2 separate regions of the Homo sapiens genome follow, and region 1 is linked to region 2. The links come from fine-mapping of genetic effects on gene expression. Tissue or cell type: memory regulatory T cells. Region 2 holds a variant in brackets; the other region holds the start of a gene. All regions are shown on one strand. Distances are from middle to middle. Region 1 holds the start of VCF1 (VCP nuclear cofactor family member 1). Region 2 overlaps LINC00673 (long intergenic non-protein coding RNA 673).

Evidence for each region. PIP is the estimated chance that this variant, and not a neighbour inherited with it, causes the effect. A credible set is the group of variants that fine-mapping cannot tell apart.
Region 1: it holds the start of VCF1, and the variant in region 2 is the best candidate, but not a certain one, in a credible set for the expression of VCF1 in memory regulatory T cells (Schmiedel 2018, PIP 0.60).

The regions. Positions count from the first base shown.
Region 1 is chr17:73,229,981-73,235,354 of GRCh38, forward strand. VCF1 (VCP nuclear cofactor family member 1) reads right to left here and starts at 2,414. Exons shown (of 4, transcript NM_001098832.2): 1 at 2,106-2,414. The coding sequence starts at 2,326. MTNAP1 (mitochondrial nucleoid associated protein 1) reads left to right here and starts at 2,453. Exons shown (of 6, transcript NM_001351264.2): 1 at 2,453-2,509; 2 at 3,240-3,345. RefSeq lists an enhancer at 1,131-1,907.
Region 2 is chr17:72,508,278-72,513,651 of GRCh38, forward strand. All of the region lies in intron 1 of LINC00673 (long intergenic non-protein coding RNA 673), which reads right to left. Among named protein-coding and RNA genes, the nearest start is that of LINC00673, 82 kb to the right of the region's middle. RefSeq lists an enhancer at 2,564-2,693. The variant A/G (reference allele first, on the strand shown) is at 2,937.

The DNA.
Region 1 (5,374 bases), 720 kb after region 2:
AAGAGATAAAGGATCTGTTAAAGTAGGGACTCCCAGTCTGGTGAGGTGGCTCACATCTGTAATCCCAGCACTTTGGGATGCCGAGGCGGGTGGATCCCTTGAGCCCAGGAGTTCAAGACCAGCCTGGGCAATATAGTGAAACCCCACCTCTACCAAAAATACACAGATTAGCTGGGTGTGGTAGCTCACACCTGTGCTCCAGCTACTCAGGAGGCTGACGTGGGAGGATCACCTGAGCCTGGGAGGTTGAGGCTGCAGTGAGGCATGATGGGGCCACTGCACTCCAGCCTGGTCGACAGAGTGAGACTCTGTCAATCAATCAGTCAATCAATCAACCAATCAATCAATCAATAAGCAGGGACTCCCTCACTACACACTCACCTCTCTGCGGCTATCCAATCTACTGTGGGAGAGCCTGAAAACCCTTTTTTTTTTTTAGATGGAAGTTTCGCTCTTGTTGCTCAGGCTTGAGTGCAGTGATCTCCGCTCACTGCAACCTCCGCCTTCCAGGTTCAAGCGATTCTCCTGCCTTAGCCTCCCAAGTAGCTGGGATGAAGGTGCCCACCACCAGGCCCAACTAATTTTTTTGTATTTTTAGTAGAGACAGAGTTTCACCATGTTGGCCAGAGTGATCTCCAACTCCTGACCTCAGGTGATCCGCCCGCCTTGACTTCCCAAAGTGCTGGGATTACAGGCGTGAGCCACCGCACCCAGCCGAAAAACCACCGTCTTAGACCATCCTAGAGCTGGCAGAGCTGGCCCATCATACTCCATTAAACACTGGCAGGAAAAGCCTGTCCAAATCAAATAACTTCTTTAAAACATGTTGAGATTATTTGTGTACAAGATAAAAGGAATCTACTGCCAGTATAAATGCATTCAGATTAGTTATGTACAGTAGAATTTTTATTTGTAGGAAATATTTAGATTTTTTTTCAGATATGTGAGACACCCCAAGAGAATATCGTAAGTATAAACTGGGTTTGGGAAAGAATAATATGGCAGTCGGGTCAGATTCACTGTATCTAAAGATCTTGCTCCTAATTCCGATGGCATGTCTGTAATTGGGCCCCCAATTTCAAATTTAGTCCACTCTTCTTTTCTATACAAGGAGAGGCTTTATGCTCCACCTGCTACATGACCCAAATCAATAATCCAATGCAGCAGCTTGGGGAACCCTAGGTTTTCACTATGGGACCAAATAAACTCAGAATACTTTTGAGAACTTCAATCACATGAAATAATTATTTCAGAGAAGGATCCTTGTGGAAAGACCGTAACAGGAAGAGCATTCTGAGGTAACCTTTCCCAACTTTCTCCTCCACACATTCTTGCAGAGGAAATTAAGAGAGAGAAAAAAATTAAGAAATCCCAACTTAGTCCGGACTCTAGTAGTACATGTCAAGCACAGAACCCCTAATTTAAGACCCGCGTCCCGAGGCCAGGCTCCCTCGGGAAGGTAGCGAGTGCATCGCGATAAAATCTTTCCTCCCGCCTTCGGAGTCAAACGGCCCCGCAATCCAAACAGTTTAGAATCCAGCTTGTTCTTAATGCCACAGTCAAGAGAAGATCCATAACCCGCCTTGGTCATCTGCCCTTCTGTGTTCACAACCGTTCAGGGCACAAGTTCTTCGGTCTAACCGAATCTTTCCCTGCTGCGGGGTTAAGCCCAACCTTTCTTTCTGACCTTGGGGAGCCGGCAGCTCCCCGCCCGGTGCCCTCACAAAAGCCTTTGGGGGCTCCCTCTCCAAGATGAGACGTTTATCCCATCCCCCCACCCTCCTAAATTTAGGACAGGAAAGCTTTAGGGCCACCGTCTCTCTTCCGGGACCGATCACACTTCGTTCCAAATAGGAAAAGACAGGGGGGAAAAAAGATGGAGGGGCGGGAGACCTGGACCCCGGAGAGTCACCTTCCAGCTACCCACAGGAACCAAGCATCCGATCACTCGCGCATCCCTCTCCCCTCCTCCCCCGGCCCGCAGTGCACCCCACAGGGAGCCCCGCCGGGTCCACTCTTGCTCCGACCCCCATTTCGCGCGCCCCCTCGGCTCTATCTCCCAGATCCTCAGGCGACGAATGGAAAGGGGGTCCCTTCCCTCTCACCTGGGACGGAGGCGCTCGCTCATGGCAGCTGGCGGATGGAAGCTACGCGGCGCCGCTCCGCGAAGAGAGGGAACAGAGGGGGTTGTGTTTCGGCGGCCGCCACGCCCACCCCCTCGGGCCTTGGCTCTCGCAGCCGCTCGGGTGGACGCAGCCGGTGGCGAGTACCCCTCAGTCGGACCCGTACCACCACTACTTCCGGCGTCTGCTCCGCGCCCCCCCATGTCGCTGCCGCCGTGGTACCGCCCTCTCGCGGCTGCGCAGTGGCACCATCCCAACCGCACCGACTGGTAACCCCGCCCACGGGAAGAGGCGGGCTCGGAGCGGGAGGAGCGACTAGGAGCTTCTGGGAGAAAGGACCTCCCCTGGGGTGGCAGAAGCGCTCGCCTGTTCACAGCCAACGGAGGGTACGGTATAAAAGTCAAGCCAGGTTTCAAATAAATTCAATTATGTCATAATAATATCATACAAGTATTTGAGTTGAATCCGTGTAACATATTTTAAAACAGGCGGACCTATCCGGCAGTGGTGCAGACGGCCTGACGAGGTTCCTTGGCCGGGGGTTGGGCAGGGGCCTGGGGGGCTTCCCTGGGGGGCTTGTCGCCGGGGCCGCCTGGGCTTTCAGGTCTTCCGAGGTGAGGACGGTGCTCTGTGGGGAGCTTGCAAGGGCGGGTTTGTTTTCCGCGGCCCACGTTCTAAGTCTGGGGGAGACTCTCCTGAGCGGAGAGGGTAGGGAATCGGGTGCCGGGGCCGGCGGAGGGTCTTCCTGGAACCGCAGGAGGAAATCCTCGGTGGGGCTGCGGGAACGGCTGTCCCTGACCCAGGAGCTGCCGGGCCGACCCCATCCACTCCGCAGAATCAGAACAGCTGGCAGAATCAGAACAGCTTTCAGGGAAAGGAAGGGTGCGGGGAGGTGGGCAGGCTGGTAACGCAGCGGGAGGAGGGAAAGGCGGCTGGAGAGCGCCGGAGGTGAGGGTGAGGATTAGTGGAACTATTGAGGTCCTCCTTGAGCCCGGAGGCTGGGGAGGTCTTAACTCTCTGCTTTCCGGAACCTGTGTTTCTATTTGGTTCAGTATCGTGCCGCGTTTACTCACTGTGCATGCTGCCAAGTCACCTGTCTGATCGTGTCCTACACAGGCTGACATTCACGTTTCATTCTGCCACACTCGGGAACGGTGATCGGGGAAGCATGGGGATCCGGGAGAAGCACCCACAAAACTAGCATCCTCCTGGAGGAGCTCGGGTAAGAAAACAGACACCCACGTATAGACGTTATCGTGGGAATGTACCGGGATCTTTCAAGTAGGGTTGAGTGTGAGGTGGAGTGGAGGCAGAAACGTCTAGCAGGTGTCAAGCCCTTCCTAACGTTGTTAGCCGAAGGTCCATGGACTGGCTTCATTTGTGTGTATTATTGTAAACAAACAGTCTGTGGCTTTCATCCTGTTAGTGTGTACCTCCAAAGAAAGAAAGAATGATGGCTCACGCCTGTAATCCCAGCAGGCTGGGCGCGGTGGCTCACGCCTGTAGTCCCAGCACTTTGGGAGGCCGAGGCGGGTGGATCACCTGAGGTCAGGAGTTCAAGACCAGCCTGGCCAACATGGTGAAACCCCGTCTCTACTAAAAATACTAAAATTAGCTGGGCGTGGTGGCGCACGCCCTTAATCCCAGTAATCCCAGCCACGCGGGAGGCTGAGGCAGGAGAACCGTTTGAACCTGGGAGGCTGAGGTTGCTGTGAGCCGAGATCGCGCCACTGCACTCCAGCCTGAGTGATAGAGCAAGACTCCATCTCAAAAAAAAAAAGACCAAACAACAACAAAGTAAAAATGATTACTGTAATCTGTTGGCAGAAAACAGTTTTGTTTTGAAGGACTTCGTACAGGATAAGGTGGGTTGGTTGCTTTATTGAATGGATTGGTGAAGATTGTGTCTATTTTGTAAGTGGTTTCAGTCACCCTTTTTAATCTCTTTGGTAGTCAGAAGATATTATCAGTTGTAGTACTGAATAATATTTAAACGTTTATATCTAAAGAATTAAGTGAACAAATATTGTATGCCAGGCTCAGTGCTAGGTTTTTACATACAGCTGTGTGCAGGATAGATATGTTTCCTGCCCTCTGGAACTTTATAGAAAGAATAAGAGATGTAGAAAGGAAATAACTTTCAACTAAACATTGGAATTAAACATTTTCTTTTCTGGACTCTAAAGAATAACAGGTACAAATATACATGGTATAAATGTTTTTTTTTTAATTTTTTACATCGTATATGTTTAACAAAGATGTCAAACTAATTTGCCAGTAATCTGTTGTACTAGAAACTATAAGTAGGCCAGGCGTGGTGTCTCACGCCTGTAATCCCAGCACACTGGAAGGCCGAAGGCGGGCAGATCACGAAGTCAGGAGATTGAGACCATCCTGGCCAACATGGTGAAACCCCGTCTCTACTAAAAATACAAAAATTAGCCTGGCGTGGTGGCGCATGCCTGTAGTCCCAGCTCCTCGGGATGCTGAGGCAGGACAATAGCTTGAACCTGGGAAATGGAGGTTTCAGTGAGCCGACACTGCACTCCGGCCTGGTGACAGAGTGAGACTCTGTCTCAAAAAAAAAAAAAAAAAAGTATAAGTGAAAAACAGGACTGTGTCCTTGGCCATGTATATATTTGTGCATTATGCATACATTTTATGTATATCTGTGTGTGTGTGTGTGTGTATATGCATATTACTAAATGTTAGTAGAGCTTCATTTCTCATTCTTTGATTGTGGTAATTCTAATATTTTCTTCTTACACCCTAGTGCATATTCTATTTATCACTTTGGAAACCTCTGCTGTAATCAGTAACCTTTGGCTGGGCGTGGGCGTGGTAGCTCGCGCCTGTAATCTCAGCACTTTAGGGGGCTGAGGTGGGTGGATTGCCAGAGCTCAGGAGTTCGAGACCAGTCTGGGTAACACGGACACGGTGAAACCCCGTCTTTACTAAAATACAAAAAATTAGTCAGGCGTGGTGGCATGCCCCTGTAGTCCCAACTACTTGGGAGGCTGAGACGAGAATTGCTTGAACCTGGGAGGCGGAGTTTGCAGTGAGCAGATATTGTGCCACTGCACTCCAGCCTGGGTGACAGAGTGAGACTCTGTTTCCAAAATAAATAAATAAATAAATAACCTTTGGTTCCTGGCCTAAGTTTTTTATTCTTTACCATTCTGTCCTTGAATAACGTGTTTAAGGGTTTTTAAACAATTTTTTATACTCATATAATGACTAGTTGACTTGCT
Region 2 (5,374 bases):
TTGTTAGTTGCACTAAATTGCTTCATTTAATTCTTGCAATGGCCTTATGAGATCAGCGTCATTAAACACATTGTACAGATATTTTTTTAATGGGCCACAAACAAAGTAACTAACCAAAATCACAGCTGGCAAGTGATGGATTCAAACCCAGGTCTCTCCAATTCCAAAGTCCCTGCTCTAATCATAGCCTCTCTTCCATGCCTGGCTGTACCCAGAAGGGCAGACTTCAACCCAGAAACAACTGTGAATTGTGATGGAGAGATGGGCTCTAGTATCTGAACAACGAAATTATACTTATAGGCTACTTTCTTTTCACAGAACAAATGAGCTTTCTTGGCTTTTAACAAAATTATCATTGAAAACTACAAAATTAAGATCACCCATAATCCCAGCATTCAGAGGGTTAATCTTTTGTTTAAAATCCTTCCAAAAGTCTTAAATGTGTTTATATGCCTTTTGGAAAAAAAATTTATTTTATAATCATTTTGGATTTACAGAAAATTGACAAAGATAGTACAAAGAGTTCCTTCACTCAGCTTTGCCTAATGTGAACATTTTACATAACCACAGGACATCTGTCAAAACTAAGCAATTAACATTGGTACATTACTTTTAACTAAACTACAGATTTTATTCAGAGTACTCCTGTTTTTCCACCAATGTCTTTTTCTGTTCCAGGATATCACATTGTAAGGCACTCATATGGTTTTAAAACAAATTGATTGTACACAACAATATATCATGGACAGATTTCTTAATCAACAAATATAAGTCTATAGCATCACGCACCACTCTCTCGTCTTTTTTTCTTTTTTTCCTTTTTTTTTTTTGTGTGTGTGTGTGTGTGAGATGGAGTTTCGCTCTTGTTGCCCAGGCTGGAGTGCAACAGCGTGATCTCGGCTCACCGCAACCTTCATCTCCTGGGTTCAAGCGATTCTCCTGCCTCAGCCTCCCGAGTAGCTGGGACTACAGGCGTGCACCACCATGCCTGGCTAATTTTGTATTTTTAGTAGAGATGGGGTTTCTCCATGTTGATCAGGCTGGTCTTGAACTCCCGACCTCAGGTGATCCGCCCACCTCGGCCTCCCAAAGTGCTGGGATTACAGGCATGAGCCACCGTGCCCAGCCTATAGCACCACTTTCAATAGCTCCCTAATATTCCACTCTATGGATGGGGATACTCTGCTCCTGAAGGGCGTTTCCACAGTTTGCATTTTTCACTGTCTCATAAACACAGGATGGGCAAACTTATCAATGGTGTCCTCAGAAGAAATTTCTAGAAATGCACTGATAGCATGTCAAGAATATGCCATTCAAGGCTTTTCATTCATTTGGCTATTCTCCTCCAGAAAGCCTGAACCCATTTGCCTTACCACCAATAAATGAGTAGCTTTAACTTAAATTCATTTTGGACAATAAATGACTTCCCTGGTAAACTAACTTGTCCACTACCCTCGAAAGAAAAAGCTATGGGACTGGAAAGAGTTAAAGGACTTTCGAGACAGTCATGTTCCCCAAAACCAGACTGATGATTTCGAACAACCACCCAGAAATTAAAGTTCCATTCTCGTCAACTCAAGTTTGTCTCACTCTCCTCTCTGGGTCTGACAGCGAAAGAGATGTTCGGGCTTTTGGCATTTCAATCATGGAATTACTTTCGGGGTACAGGGGCAACCCCCACCGAGTTTAATTTCCTTCTCATCTCTCTGTAGTGTCTATTGAAACTCCCTAAAGGAAAAGCTTTGAGCAGGCTCCTGTGGTAACGCATGTAACAGGAAGGACAAAGGATTTGATAGTCAGCAAAGTTATAAGCCTGGTTTTTTTTTAATGGTGAAAGGAATAGGGGGAAGGAGAGAGATTATAAAACTGCTTGCATATCTAGAAATAGTTCAAATTGAGCTTGAACCAGGAACCTGCCCAGCATGCTAACTGCGGCCATGGTTCCTTGTCCAAAGGAAGCCCATATTTTATTTTGAGACTCCTGTTCTTTGGTGCAAAACACTTTGTCCCCATGCTTAGAAACACTATAAAACGCTATATATTTAGGATAACTGGGAAAAAAAGGCGGCTTGGAAGGTTCCGAGAAATTGAGCCCTACCCCATGCTGGGGAATTCTTCAGCGCCATTCTGGCTTGCAAAAAGAAAAAGAAAAAAAAAAAAGAAAAAAGAAAGAAAGAAAAAAAAAACAAGCTACTGGTCAGAGGGAATGCTCTTCCATGCCAAGCTCAGCTTGAATTAATACACAACACAACCTCTTAAAGAGGGGCACTGCTTTAAACTAAGAGTCTCTTCTGAAAATGTAACTGATTTGAAAAAGCAACAGGAAGTTGAGAATATTCTGGAAGGAAAAAGGCTGCAACCTGATACATTTTCTTCACCCCAGTGTTTGCAATCTTGTCACTCTGGTCAAGGCCACACCTTCAAGTCAGGAGGGATGAAGCCTTTGAAGCAAAGGATGCCAGTTTCACTTCCCCAAGCAAAACAATGCCCAGGACCCATCCTGAGCTTGCTGCCTCCCTAGGGCCTCTGTGGTCTGGTTGAGTGGCTGGTAGAACCCATTTCACTTTGAATTCTGCCCAGAAACCACAGGAGGATCAGTCCACGGAAGAGAAAAATCTAATTGGTTACAGGGACTTAGCATCTGCCCAGAAGACATTCATGCCCTTTGTCCTACATGGTTTCCCAGCCACCAGGGAGGAGAGGACTTCAGTCCAGGGACCACATATAGAACCTGATTACTTTCAGCTACAAGATGAATTTGTTCTGGGGATCTAAAGCACAGCATGGTGACAATAGTTAATAATACAACATGGCTCGCTTGAAATTTGCTAAAAGAGTAGATCTTAAGTGTCCTTACCCCCAACCCCACACACACGGTAATTATGTGGGGTGGTGAATGCACTAATTAATTTGATTGTGATTAATTTGATTGTAAA[A/G]CTTATTTCACAATGTATATCAAATCATCATGTTGCATACCATGAATACATAAATACAATTTTTATTAGTCAGCTGCACCTCAATAAAGCTGCAGAGACAAAAAAACAAAAGAGACGCTTTCTCTTGTTAGCTGATGGAGTATTGCGTTAAGTACAGGAGGAGCAAGTTACTGCAAAGAGAAACGAAAGCCTTGAAAACCAAAGCACTGTTATTTCCGCGTGTATCTTCCAGGGTGAAGCAAGCACATTTCTGTGAATGGGAGCTTTTTTAGACCTATTTGGAGATCTGTAAAATTTAGGTGATTCAACCTACCAACCTTAAATTGAAACCCAAGCCATTACAAGATCAGACTGTAGCGTTCTGAAGGAGTGTGTAAGTGTACGTATGTGGGCTTTGTCATGAAGCAGAATTTGAGAAAAGGGACCACACTGATGTGAGGCTTTACCAAAGCCCCGCGCTATAAGCAATACTCCAACAGTGTTGTGTGTGTTTGTTTTCTTTTAATTGGGAATAGTTATGCATACTCTGTAAGCACAAACTGTAAAAGAGGGAGGTTATACGAATAGACTTCCCTACTGTAAATAAAACACACTGTTGGGATCAAGTAAAACTTGCAACAAATTAAGCCTGACATTTAGGAATAACCATGGTGTAATTGAGCTACATAGAAATCCAACATAAAAGACAAACTTCCTAAGGAGGTGACTCAAGCCACACCTCTGGGGGCAGATAGTGGGAGGTGAGAGGGGACAGGGAAAGTAGCGAAGTCCCTGGAAGTCCTTCAGGAGGCTGAATCAGAGAGGCTTCAGCCAGGGCTCAAAGGCAGGCAGTGTGGATCCAGAATGCCACTCCTTGCTGTGTCGGAGGATTAAACAGAGTCATGTGATGCCTATTCTCAGGCCCAGAGGTGGCTTGGGAGCACCTGCTGGAAGGACAAGGTCGAGATCCTCAAATGTCCCCTTCTCTTGGTCTCCAGGTCATTGAACTTAGAGGAGTCACTGAGGGACAGCCACACTCCTCCTCCTTTAAAAACCACAAGCTGCCTTGCTACCTTCACATCACCTGTAATGCCCTCCAATTATATATTTATTTCATTTTAAAGAAAATATCAGCCAGGCACAGTGGCTCACGCCTGTAATCCCAGCACTTTGGGAGGCCAGGGCAGGCAGATCACTTGAGTTCAGGAGTTCAAGACCAGCCTGGCCAACATGGCGAATCCCTGTCTCTACTAAAACTACAAAAATTAACCGTGCATGGTGGCATGCGCCTGTAATCCCAGCTACCTGAAAGGCTGAGGCCAGAGAATTGCTTGAACCTGGGAGGTGGAAGTTGCAGTGAACCCAGATCAAGCCACTGCACTCCAGCCTGGGCGATACAGCGAGACTCCGTCCCCCTGACCAAAAAAAGAAAAAGAAAATATCTGTAAGAAAGCTGGAGTGCTTTCAATTTCTCACAACTTGATTGGGTTGGTTCTCTGTCTACTTTCCTAGCTGGGACTAATCACTGAAGCACCCAGGGTTATTTACATGAACACCAGCTTCTAGAAAACTCTGCCCCTCCTCCCTTAGGAGGCTCTCAGGTTCCCCTGCTGCATAGACCTGGGGCAGCCACCACATTTCCCATACCCTAGAGAAGAAAGAACAAAGGGCCATTTGCAACACGGGACACTTCAGGAGGGAAATCCAGGGGTGGCCTCAACCACTAAAGTAACATGAGAGCTCGATGCTCCCTAAAGAGCCCAGCAGAGGGGGGCAAGGAGAGTCACGGAAGTGGGTGGGTACCCCGTCCAAAGGCTGGTTCACAGTTTGCCCTGGCCCCTCCATCCTCCCACCAGAAGACAAGAGGATTGCTTTCACTCCTGGGTCATTCCTGCCAGCCCTCCCTACTGTGCCTACCTGGAGGTGGGCAGTGAGAGGGACAGGGTGGGAAAGCCTTGGCCCCAAGAGACTCTGGGCAGGGCCCTGGATGGACCACCCAAGCCATCCTGCTGCAGCAAACAGATGGTGTGGGCCGCCTGGGGACCGTGAAGTGCACTGCTCAGCTCTTATTCCCGAGAGGGATGTCTGTGTTCACAGGGCCTTATTCTACACACACCCAGCCTAGCAGCAGCTGGAGTCTACTAGGTGGCAAAAAAGTTAGCCATAAGAGTTTGGGGTCATTCATTCATTCACATCTTCAACATTTTTTTTTTTTTGAGACAGGATCTCACTCTGTCTCCCAGGCTGGAAGGCAGTGGCACAATCTCGGCTCACTGCAGCTGTGACCTCCTGGGCTCAAGCAATCCTCCCACCTCAGCCTCATTTTTTTTTTCTTTTTTTTTGAGATGGAGTCTCACTCTTGTTGCCCAGGCTGGAGTGCAGTGGTGCAATCTCGGCTCACTGCAAGCTCTGCCTCCCGGGTTCACGCCATTCTCCTGCCTCAGCCTCCCTAGTAGCTG